2 separate regions of the Homo sapiens genome follow, and region 2 is linked to region 1. The links come from fine-mapping of genetic effects on gene expression. A gene starts in region 1. The other region holds a variant in brackets. All regions are shown on one strand. Distances are between the middles of the regions. Region 1 holds the start of RBM19 (RNA binding motif protein 19). Region 2 has its middle 38 kb from the start of LINC01234.

Region 1 (5,378 bases):
AGAATCCCCCAAAGCACCAGCAGGGCCATGCTCCCTCCAAAACCTCCAAGGGAGAACGCTTCCTTGCTTCTTTCAGCTTCTGGTGGCTCCAGGTCTTCGTTGACTTGTGACTGCATCACTCCAGACTCTACCTCCACCTACACATGACGTTCTCTGTGTGTCCTTTAAAAGGACATGTGTCATTGGATTTAGGGTCTACCAGGATAATTCAGGATGATCTCATTTTGAGACCCTTAAGTACATTTGCAAAGACCCTTGATATGGTTTGGCTGTGTCCCCACCAAATCTCATCTTGAATTGTAGCTCCCATAATCCCCACGTGTCCTGGGAGGGACCCAGTGGGAGATAATTGAATTATGGGGGTGGTTTCCCCATACTGTTTTCGTGGTAGTGAATAAGTCTCACGAGATCTGATGGTTTTATAAGGGGAAAGCCTTTCACTTGGTTCTCATTCTCTCTTTGCCTGCCACCAGGTAAGACATCCCTTGCTCTTCCACCATGATTGTGAGGCCTCCCCAGCCATGTGGAACTGTGAGTCCATTAAATCTCTTTCCTTTATAAATTACCCAGTCTCAGGTATGTCTTCATTAGCAGCGTGAGAACAAACTAATACAACACTTTTTTGCAAATAAAGTCACATTTACAGCTTCCAGGGGTCAGGATGCCCCCAGTGTGTGTGGTGGTGAGGGGACAGGGGATCATTCATCCCACTACACTGCCCACCCTTCTGTAAATAGCTTTTTGTCCAGATTTGCTTTTGTTAAATCCTTTTGAGTATACCTCTGTGTCCTGCTGACTGATGCATTTCCTTCAAAAACATTTATAGCTACATACCTACCGTTTTTTAACAACTGCATAGAATTCTGTTGAATGGACAGACCTTAATTTACAATTAGCATTTAATGAACTCCTATTACCTGTCTCCTCCTGGTGCCCAGTGTGATGCTTTGCAAAGATGGATCTAAGGATGCCCCTATGGCAACATAATGTAGAAAGAACAAGTGGCCTCATCTATAACTCTGAACCTACACTGTGCGCTCCTCACCAGCGAGTTCTGTAGGTTTATGCTGTGGCAGATGCATGAGCTCCCTGCATTTGGGGCTCAGTAGGAAAGAGGCATATTCGAGGATGCCATGTTTGAGCTGGTCTTAGAGAGGGGATGGGAATGGGTTCAGAAAGATATTCCAGTGGCCAAAAGCACATGAAAGATGCTGTTTCATTAGTTATCGGGGAAATGCAAATCAAAACATTGAGTCACCACTGTACACCCACTAGAGTGGCTATGATTATAAAGACCCAATAACAAACACTGGAGGAGATGTGGAGATATTTGAACCTTCATATACCGCTGGTAGGAATATAAAATGGGGAAGCCACTTTGGATAACAGGTTAGCAGGTTCTAAAAAGGTTAAGCATAGAGTTACCATATGATCAGGCAATCCTACTCCTAGGAATATATCCAAGAGAAATAAGAACATATGCCCACACAGGAACTTACAGGTAAATGTTCACGGCAAGATTATTCACAGTAGCCACAAAGCGGAAACAACCCAAATGTCCATCATCAACTGATGAATAAATAAAATGTAATACATCCATATATGTAATACTATTCAGCAAAAAAAGTGTGGTGGCTCACGTCTGTAATCCCAGCACTTTGAAAGTTCAAGGCAGGTGGATTGCTTGAGCCCAGGAGTTCAAGACCAGCCTGGGCAACATGTTGAAACCTCGCCTCTACCAAAAAATTACCAAAAAAAAAAAATTAGCCAGGCATGGTGGCATGTGCCTGTAGTCCCAGCTGCTCAGGAGGCTGAGGTGGGAGGATGGCTTGAGCCTGGGAGGCGGAGGTTGCAGTGAGCTGAGATTGTGCCACTGCACTCCAGTCGGGGTGACAGAGCCCGACCCTGTCTCAAATAAATAAACAGATAAATAAAGTGCTGATTCATGCTGCAACATGGAAGAACTTTGAAAACATTATGCTAAGTGAAAGAAGTCAATTACAAAAGACTACATATTGTATTATTCCATTTACATGAAATGTCCATAACAGACAAATCCATAGAGACGGAAAGTAGATTAGTGGTTATCAGAGGGAAGGGAGAGGGAGGAATTGGAAGGTTATAGCTAAAGGGTGTGGTGTTTCTTTGGGGGTAATGAAAATGTCCTAGCATTGATTGTGGTGATGGCTGCACACCTCTGTAAATATAGTCAGCACCATTGAATTGTGCACTTTAAGTGGGTGAATTGCATGGTTTGTGATAAAGCTGTTAACAATAAGAAGGGGGGACGGAATGTCTTTTAGGTGAAGGAAATTGCAGAAGCTTGGCAGCAACGTCCAGTGCAGCTGAGGCACTGTGGGGAAACAGAAAGGAAATACCGTCATTTAAGAGTGAAAATAGGGGTTTTCATAGGATGTCTCCATCCAAGAGTAGGTACCGAGAATGCTCAGAGAAGCAATAGGAAAATAACATCCCTTTCACGTTCTCACCTCCTTAACCCCTAGCATAATAAAGAATTATTCCCATTTTATAGAAGTAGACACAAAGGCTCAGAGGCCATTTTGGCCAAGATCTCTCAGCTAGAAGATTGGCCAGCTGAGAGTTCCAAACATTAGGAAGGGAGGCAAAATGCTTGTGGGGCTGGGGTTGAAGGCGTAGAGACTCATTGTAGGGCCCTAGGCAGTCCCTAGCTCGAATCTGACTTTCCAATTCATAGTTATAAGACTTTGAGCAAGCTGCTTTACACGCACGATTCCCAGTTTATCTGCCTGCAAAATGAGAGCGTTTATTTCCAACATGTTCATTCCAAGTATTTACACAAAAGGCTCAATACTTGATTTGTGTTGGCTGGCAATCTCTCTAAACTTCACTTTCCCCATTTCTACGAGGAAGGCAAGGGTCCCTAATCTTGCCCCCGTTCTCAGGGGAGTCCTAAGGCTCAATAATAAAAATAAAATAAGAAAAAGGAGAGAACGCGATTGCCCGGTTGGCGCGACCCTTAACACCGAGCTAAACCGGCGCATGTTAGGGACCGGCGCCCCCTGCCGCCTTCTCCGCTGCATTGGCGTCTCACAGAATCCGCCCAAGGCCCTGCGCCTGCGCAAAATGCAAGCGCCCAGGCCCACCCCTTGTGGGGTGTGACCTCCCTGAGTAGTTTTGGATTAGCCACGCCTACTTCCGGACAGGTCAGGCCAAGGTCTCAGCCACGTGACTGTGTTCCGGCTCGGTAAAGATGGCGGCGCCCAGGGCGGTAGCGTGAAACTTGGTGGAAGACGCTGACCAGTCGTGTTGGAATCAAAACAGCGGGGACCCTGCGCCATGTCGCGACTGATCGTGAAGAATCTCCCGAATGGGGTGAGTGCAGAGGCAGGACTTGGGAATCTGAAATGAGACCAGCCGGGAGCTGTGAGGTAGGGAAGAGATGCCTGGAGGTGATCGAAGAATTTTTGCTCTGGGGCAGGACTCCGGGCCAATTCTGAACTCAAAGGGGGCGGGATCCTGGGCTTATCCCCATTTGATCCCGAGGAAAGAGGAATAGTGACTGCTTACGGTTTCACGGCCGGTTGTTTGGTACCTGACTCCTAACACACCTCTTCTCGGGGAGATGACAACTCCCACCTTGTGGCGAATACCCTGCTCCCACAACCTCTTTCATTCGATCACTGTTTTTTAGTTGTTGACCCGGGACATGGTCCGACACTGTATTTATATTCCTCTCCCAGTCTGGAAACTGTTGGGGAAGACATGGGGAATATTAATCTGCGGACCTGCGTTCCAATTCCCACTCCCATCCTTAGGGCAAGTAGGAATACGGAGTGGGTAAAGGGCTTTACAGCATTTATCCAGTAAGTGGGGAGTGGTGACCCAGCCATACTTTTTTGTTTCCCTGGAGCCCAGCGCAGAACCCGACACGTGGTAGGCAAAATAGGTGAATGTACGTAATATTAGATGATTAGATGCGGTGGGCTCGAATGGATCATCCTTTTTTCTCTCTCTCGCTGTTTTTTGTTCTGTTTTGTTTTTTTGTTTTTAAATGGATTACTGCTCCTTCCATCAGGTTAGACAGTGTCTCTTGATGCCTCGCTTTGTGGGATGAGGATTTTTAGCGTAGCTGCACTTCCTTTCCCTCCCAAATTCAGCTTTGTTGTGTTTCAAGTGTAGTTGATTCTCTTATCATTGTTTGTCTTATCTCTTTTTTTTCTCTCTCTTTCATGGCTTTTTTTGGTTTTGTTTTTTGTTTTTTTCTTTTTTTGTTTTTTTTTTTTAAACGGAGTCTGGCTCTGTCTCCCAGGCTGGACTGCGGTGGAGCAATCTCGGCAGTCTCGGCTCACTGCAACTTTTGCCTCCCGGGTTCTAGCGATGCTCCTGCCTCAGCCTCCCAAGTAGCTGGGACTACAGACACGCGCCACCAAGCCCGACTAATTTTTTTATTTTTAGTAGAGACATGGGGTTTCGCCATGTTGGACAAGTTGGTCTCGAACTCCTGACCTCAGGTGATCCACCGCCTCGGCCTCCCAAAGTGCTGGGATTACAGGCGTGAGCCACTGCACCTGGCCCCCATTTCTGTTCTAATGTTGTGAGTTTTTTCCTTTCCTTTTTTTTTTTTCATTTGTCAGGTGGGACAAAGGAACTTTGTAACACACAGTTTTCAAAATTCAAACAGTATAGTAGTGTATAACATGAGTAGCAAAGTCTTTGCTCTGTCCTACCTTCCCTCTCTGTCCAGGAGTAACCATCTTCATTGATTTGTTTTTGGGACTCCTCACATGTATCTCTGTATATTTGAGGAGTGTACTTTCCTCCTTTTGACCTGCCTGCCCCAGTGACTATCTGCTAGGCCTCAACTGTGAAAAATAAGGAATTTAGATCATCTGTTCCTCCTCTCCAGTGTCTGTAATATTCTTGTTTTTAATTATCCTGTTATAATCTCTGAGTAGTATACTTAAAAATATCTATTACTCATCCATCCATCAGGTTAGACATGTCTCTTGATGCCTTGCTTTGTGCGATGAGGATTTTTAGCGTGGCTGCACTTCCTTTTCTTCCCAAATTCAGCTTTGTTGCACTTCACAGTGTAGTTGACTCTCTTATCATTGTTTGTCTTATCTCATGAATGAAAGAATAATAAAAACAAGGGCAGTTGCAGCTGACACTTGGAGAGTTTACTGTGTGCCAGGCACTGTTCCAGGTGCTTTAGGTAAAGTAACATTTAATCCTCACCATATCCCTGTGAGGTAAGTTTTATTTTTACGCCCATTTTAAAGGTAAAGAAACCAAGATACAGCGAGGTACAGGGATTTGCCTGAGGTCACACACTGGTGTAATTTATAGAGCAGGGATTGAATTGAGCAATCTTTAGTTTAGGGATTGAATTGAGG
Region 2 (5,378 bases), 160 kb after region 1:
AGGCCTGGCGCGGTGGCTTACGCCTGTAATCCCAGCACTTTGGGAGGCCAAGGTGGGTCATCGCAAAGTCAGGAGATGGAGACCATCCTGGCTAACATGGTGAAACCCCATCTCTACTAAAAATATAAAAAATTAGCCGGGCATGGTGGCACGTGCCTGTAGTCCCAGCTACTCGGGAGGCTGAGGCAGGAGAATCACTTGAACCCGGGAGGTAGAGGTTGCAGTGAGCCGAGATCGTGCCACTGCTCTCCAGCCTGGACAACAGAGTGAGACTCCATCTCGAAAAAAAATATATTGAACTAAAAAATGTCTCCCAAAGCACAGAGCACGGACCTCTGTGCTTCAGGAGATGGTTTAGGTGGCCCACACACTTTTCTTTTTAATTTTTAACTCACAAGTTTATTTTCACATGTATGCCACAAATACAAACCTGTATTTGTTTAGGTCATCAAACCTATGGTGTTGCTAAGCTCTAAGGAATACCGGTGAATTCGTATAAAGAAAAGTATTAAAAACATGAATTTCGTGAGGCAAAGTAGTAAAGAAGCGACGTGAATGATCAAAATCAGGGGTTGGCAAACCATGGCCCTCTTTTTTTTTTTTTTTTTTTGTGCTGCTGTTGCCTGGTTTTGTGAATAAAGTTTTATTGGAATACAGCCATGCCCATTAGTTTACATATTGTCAATAGTTGCTGCATGTAACAGAGTTGAGTAGCAACAGAGACCTTATGACCTGCAAAGCCTAAAATATTTACCATCTGGCCCTTTGCATCAAGTGCAGTGACCCCGATCTAAAGCAAACCCCCATCATTTTACAGATTAGAAAGCCCAGAGTGTCTTCTACAAGGTCACACTGTGGCAGAATTCCCCGTTCCGGCTCTTTCACCTCTGCTATGCTGCCTCGGCACATGTGCTGAGTAAAACTTTATTGACAAGACCAGGCAACAGTAGCAGGAAAAAGAAAAACGAGCTGTGGTTTGGCGACCCCTGATTTCAATCATTCATACCCCTTCTTTACTACTTTGCCACTTAGCCACAATGTGACCTTGAGCAACCTCCTTGACCTCTCTGTGCCTGTGTTCTCACCTGTGAACCGAGAACAGGACAGACTCCTGCAGATGCCAGGATGAAGTGAAGGCTGAGAATGGCGCCGGCCCCACATGAGCACTACACAAGCCTCAGCTGTTGTTACCCCATCCCCCCAACATAAAGGCAGTGTCCTTCTGCACCCCGACAGGCTTGGGCCATCACCCGCTGCCCAGGAGGCCAGGGTATTTCAGCACAAGCCCCGGGCCAAGGCCTTCTGGATCGTCAGCAAAGTAAAAGGGGCCCTGCAATCTAATTATAGCATTGCTAGAAGCCAGGGCCGCATTCCCCTCCAGCTTCCTTAATAAGCCCCACTTCCCCATAATTGCAGATTTCATGGAAGCGGTCCACTGGGGCCACCATGTCCCATCCTTGGGCTTAGGCCAATAGCAGACATTTTGTTGTGCAGATTTCTGGATAGCAGCTGCTCCTGCCTTTCCTGGAAACTGTCAGGAGCCCTCCCTTCTCCTGGTCCCCAAAAAGATTCCAGGCGATAACATCGCTGCCACCTTGTACACCTGCAGTTTACAAAGCACTTTCGCAGGTGGGAGCTGAGTCACTAGGCAGGGGCTGTCACTGCCATGGCACAGATGAGGAAACTGAGGCTCCAGGAAAGGAGGGGAGCAGCCCGTGGCCGATGTTCCAGAAAGAAGGCAGTCCCTTTTCCCAGGCTGTGGCTCCACAGTCAAAGACCCTCCTCTCCTTCCCCTCTGGCTTTGTGGAAGAGGACAGGAAGCTGGATATGTGGCAGTCCGTGCAAGGGATAGCAGGAAACACTGCGTCCCATGAACGATTCTCAGACTGCATTCCCCAGAGATGCTGAGATGTGGGGCTGAGGAGTCCGGCACCCTTAACCCCTCCACCTCCCAGGATTTTATATTCCTAGGCTCAATTGCCCAACCCTCATAGTGTAAGCATCTCACTGCAGTCTTTGTGAGCTGCGAGGTATTTTGTGAACCCTGAACACAAGTCAACAACTTCACCCAATGCTCAACCAAAGAACAGCAGCTGCCCCAGTGCTGGGGGACAGCCTGCTGTGTTCGCCTCCCAGAGCAACAGTGTATATAGGTCAGGGAATGTGTTGGTTCCTGTGACAGACCCAGACATTAGTGGGCTTAAATGAGATGGAGGTGGATTTCTGTCACATGACAGTTGGAAGGTGAACAGGCCTGGTCTGACAGCAGCAGGGGCCCAGCCCCTCTGAACTGTCACTCTGACACGCCTCCATGGCCCAGACAGCACCCCGCTGTGCTGCCATCACCCAGTCACTGGGAGTGGGGAGGAAAAAGAGGGCTTGCCCTGCCCTTCAAGGACACAGCCTGTGCATTCTCATGTCACTTTGACCAGAATATGGTCACCTGGTTGAGCCTAGCTGCAAGAGATGCTGGGAAATGGTCTTTCTCTTGGGCAGCCATATGCTCCCCAAAACATACAGCCCCTCCTTCTACAGGAAGCGGGAAAACAAATGCTGGGGGCAGCCAGCAGCCTCAGCCACTGATCGTTGGGTGCTGCCTGGGGTCTTCCCAGGGCATTTTCAAGGTCAATTTGACTGTCCTTGATTTCCACCTTTTGAGCTGACGTTAGAACCTAACCCCACATAAGCATTGTTTAAAGACTCATGTATCACAGCCGTAAAAAAGAA[T/C]GAGTTCATGTCCTTTGCAGGGACATGGATGAAGCTGGAAACCAGCATTCTCAGCCAAATAACACAGGAACAGAAAACCAAACACCACATGTTCTCACTCATAAGTGGGAGTTGACCAATGAGGACACATGGACACAGGGAAGGGAACATCACACACCGGGACCTGTTGGGGGTGGAGGGCTAAGGGAGGGATAGCATTAGGAGAAATACCTAATGTAGATGGTGGGTTGATGGGTGCAGCAAACCACCATGGCACATGTATGCCTATGTGACAAACCTGCACTTTCTGCATATGTATCCCAGAACTTAAAGTATTTTAAAGAAAAAAGAAAAAGACTCATGAATCTAATGTGTTCATCAGATTTTTGGGGTTTTTTTTTTTCTTTTTTCTTTTTTTTTTTTTTTTGAGACAGGGTCTTGCTGTGTCACCCAGGCCGGAGTGCAGTAGTGTGATCATGGCTTACTGCAGCCTCAACCTCCCAGGCTCAAGTCATCCTCTTGCCTCAGCCTTCTGAGTAGCTGGGACTACAGGCATGCACCACCATGCTCGGCTAATTTTTTAATTTTTTTTAGGGAAGGGGTCTCCCTATGTTGCCCAGGCTGGCCTCAAACTCCTGGGCTCAAGCAGTCCTCCTGCCGTGGCTTCCCAAAGTTCTGGCATTACAGGTGTGAGCCACTATGCCTGGCCTCATCACATTCTTAAACCAAGAAAAGTTAACCCACTTTTCTTAACCCACTGTGTTAGACACTAGTGCTGGTTGTCAGTGAAAAACTCCAAAGTAACATGTGGATCTTGTTGCTTACACATTAAGACAAAATGCCAATTTTGGGGGCTGGGGGAATAAGGCATCAAGTTTGCCCCATGTGTAGATTCACTCGTGTCTGACCAAGTGCACCCTCGGAGTGTTACCTACACAGAGGCTGGCTTTTCCCTAACGTCCTTCTTTTCCGCAGATCTTCAGAAAGGCTTTCTCTGATAGGGCAGTATGTTAATTCCTGTGATTGCTGTAACAAAATACCTCAAACTGGGGGGCTTAAAGCAACAGAAAGTTGTGCTCTCACAGTTCCGGAGTCCACAGGTCTGAAATCCAGGTGTGGGCAGGGCCGTGCTCCCTCCGAAGGCTCTAGGGGAGGATCCTTGCTCAACTTATTTTTGAGACAGTCTTGCTCCCTCACCCACGCTGGAGTGCAATGGCACGATCTCGGCTCGCTGAAACCTCTGCCTCCCGAGTAGCTGAGATTACAGGTGCCCGCCACCACGCCCAACTAATTTTTGTATTTTTAGTAGAGACAAGGTTTCACCATTGGCCAGGCTGATCTTGAACTCCTGGCCTCAGGTGATCCACCCGCCTCAGCTTCCCAAAGTGTTGGGATTACAGGCCTGAGCCACCACGCCCAGCCTGCCTTTCTTTTCTGAGGACAGTTGGCACCTATAATCTCATCTCAAGATCGTTAGTTATATGTACAAAGACCCTTTTTTCCCAAATAAGGTCATATTTACAGGTTCCAGGTGGACGTATATTTTGGGGGAGGTCACCATTCAACCCTCTGCAGACCATCTGAGTCCCCTTTCCTTGCTCTACAAGCATTTAATGAGCACCTCCTATTGGCCAGCCCTGAACTGGCGGCCAGGGATCCAGCAATCAACACAACAGGATCAGCCAGGCCCGGTGACTCATGCCTATAATCCCAGCACTTTGAGAGGCTGAGGCGGGCAGATCACTTGAGGTCAGGAGTTTGAGACCAGCTTGGCCAACATGGTGAAACCCCATCTCTACTAAAATACATAACTTAGCTGGGTGCTGTGGCTCACGCCTGTAATCCCAGCAGTTTGGGAGGTTGAGGCGGGTGGATCACTTGAGGTCAGGAGTTCAAGACCAGTCTAGCCAACATGGCAAAACCCCGTCTCTACTAAAAATACAAAAAATGAGCTGGGCATTTTTTGTATGAGGCGGGCGCCTGTAGTCCCAGCTACTCAGGAGGCACGAGAATCACTTGAGCCCGGGAGGTGGAGGTTGCAATGAGCTGAGATGGCACCACTGCACTCCAGCCTGGGCGACAGAGCGAGACTCTGCCTCAAAAACAAACAAACATACAACACAGTAGGCTCACTGCTGCTGTGAAAGTTCACAGTCTGTTGGGAGATGGCTAAGTAACAGGTGGTCATGGTGCCAAAGGAGAAGTGGGGCAGGTGTCCAAAGGAAGGGTGGGGAGGGCTTCCCAAAAGACGTGGCTTCTAAACTGTGTCCCAGGAGGTGAGTAGGGGTTACCCTGAGAGGTGGACTTACCCTGAGGGCAGCAGAGAGCCCCTGAAGGTCCAAGAGCAGGAGAGCAGCCATGCCCAGCTGCCTGTGAAGCTGCCACCTCCTCTCCCTCCACACCCTGACACTCAGGGACACGCCCCCGCAGCCCACACTCCCAGGAAAAGCATTCCTCTAGCGGACCTTCTGGTTACTTTTATAGATAACCTTGTGGCCGGCCCTCCACCACCTCTGCAGAAACAACACCCTCACCCCACGAAGCCCGACCTGTTCTCTCCCTGGCTGACTTTGAAGCCGTGGTTGTAGCAGAGTGGGTAGGTTCTGATGATGGGTAGAGAAGGCAGAGGCCAGAGCGAGGCAGCCAAGGCCAGGAACGCCAGGAGCCACCAG

What was found.
Region 2: its variant is fine-mapped to the expression of RBM19 in whole blood (TOPMed, PIP 0.95).

Annotation. Positions count from the first base shown.
Region 1 is chr12:113,964,168-113,969,545 of GRCh38, reverse strand. It overlaps RBM19 (RNA binding motif protein 19), which reads left to right and starts at 3,221. Exons shown (of 24, transcript NM_016196.4): 1 at 3,221-3,354. The coding sequence starts at 3,319. RefSeq lists enhancers at 2,915-2,984, 2,943-3,870, 3,871-4,799.
Region 2 is chr12:113,808,644-113,814,021 of GRCh38, reverse strand. No RefSeq gene overlaps it. Among named protein-coding and RNA genes, the nearest start is that of LINC01234, 38 kb to the right of the region's middle. The variant T/C (reference allele first, on the strand shown) is at 2,728.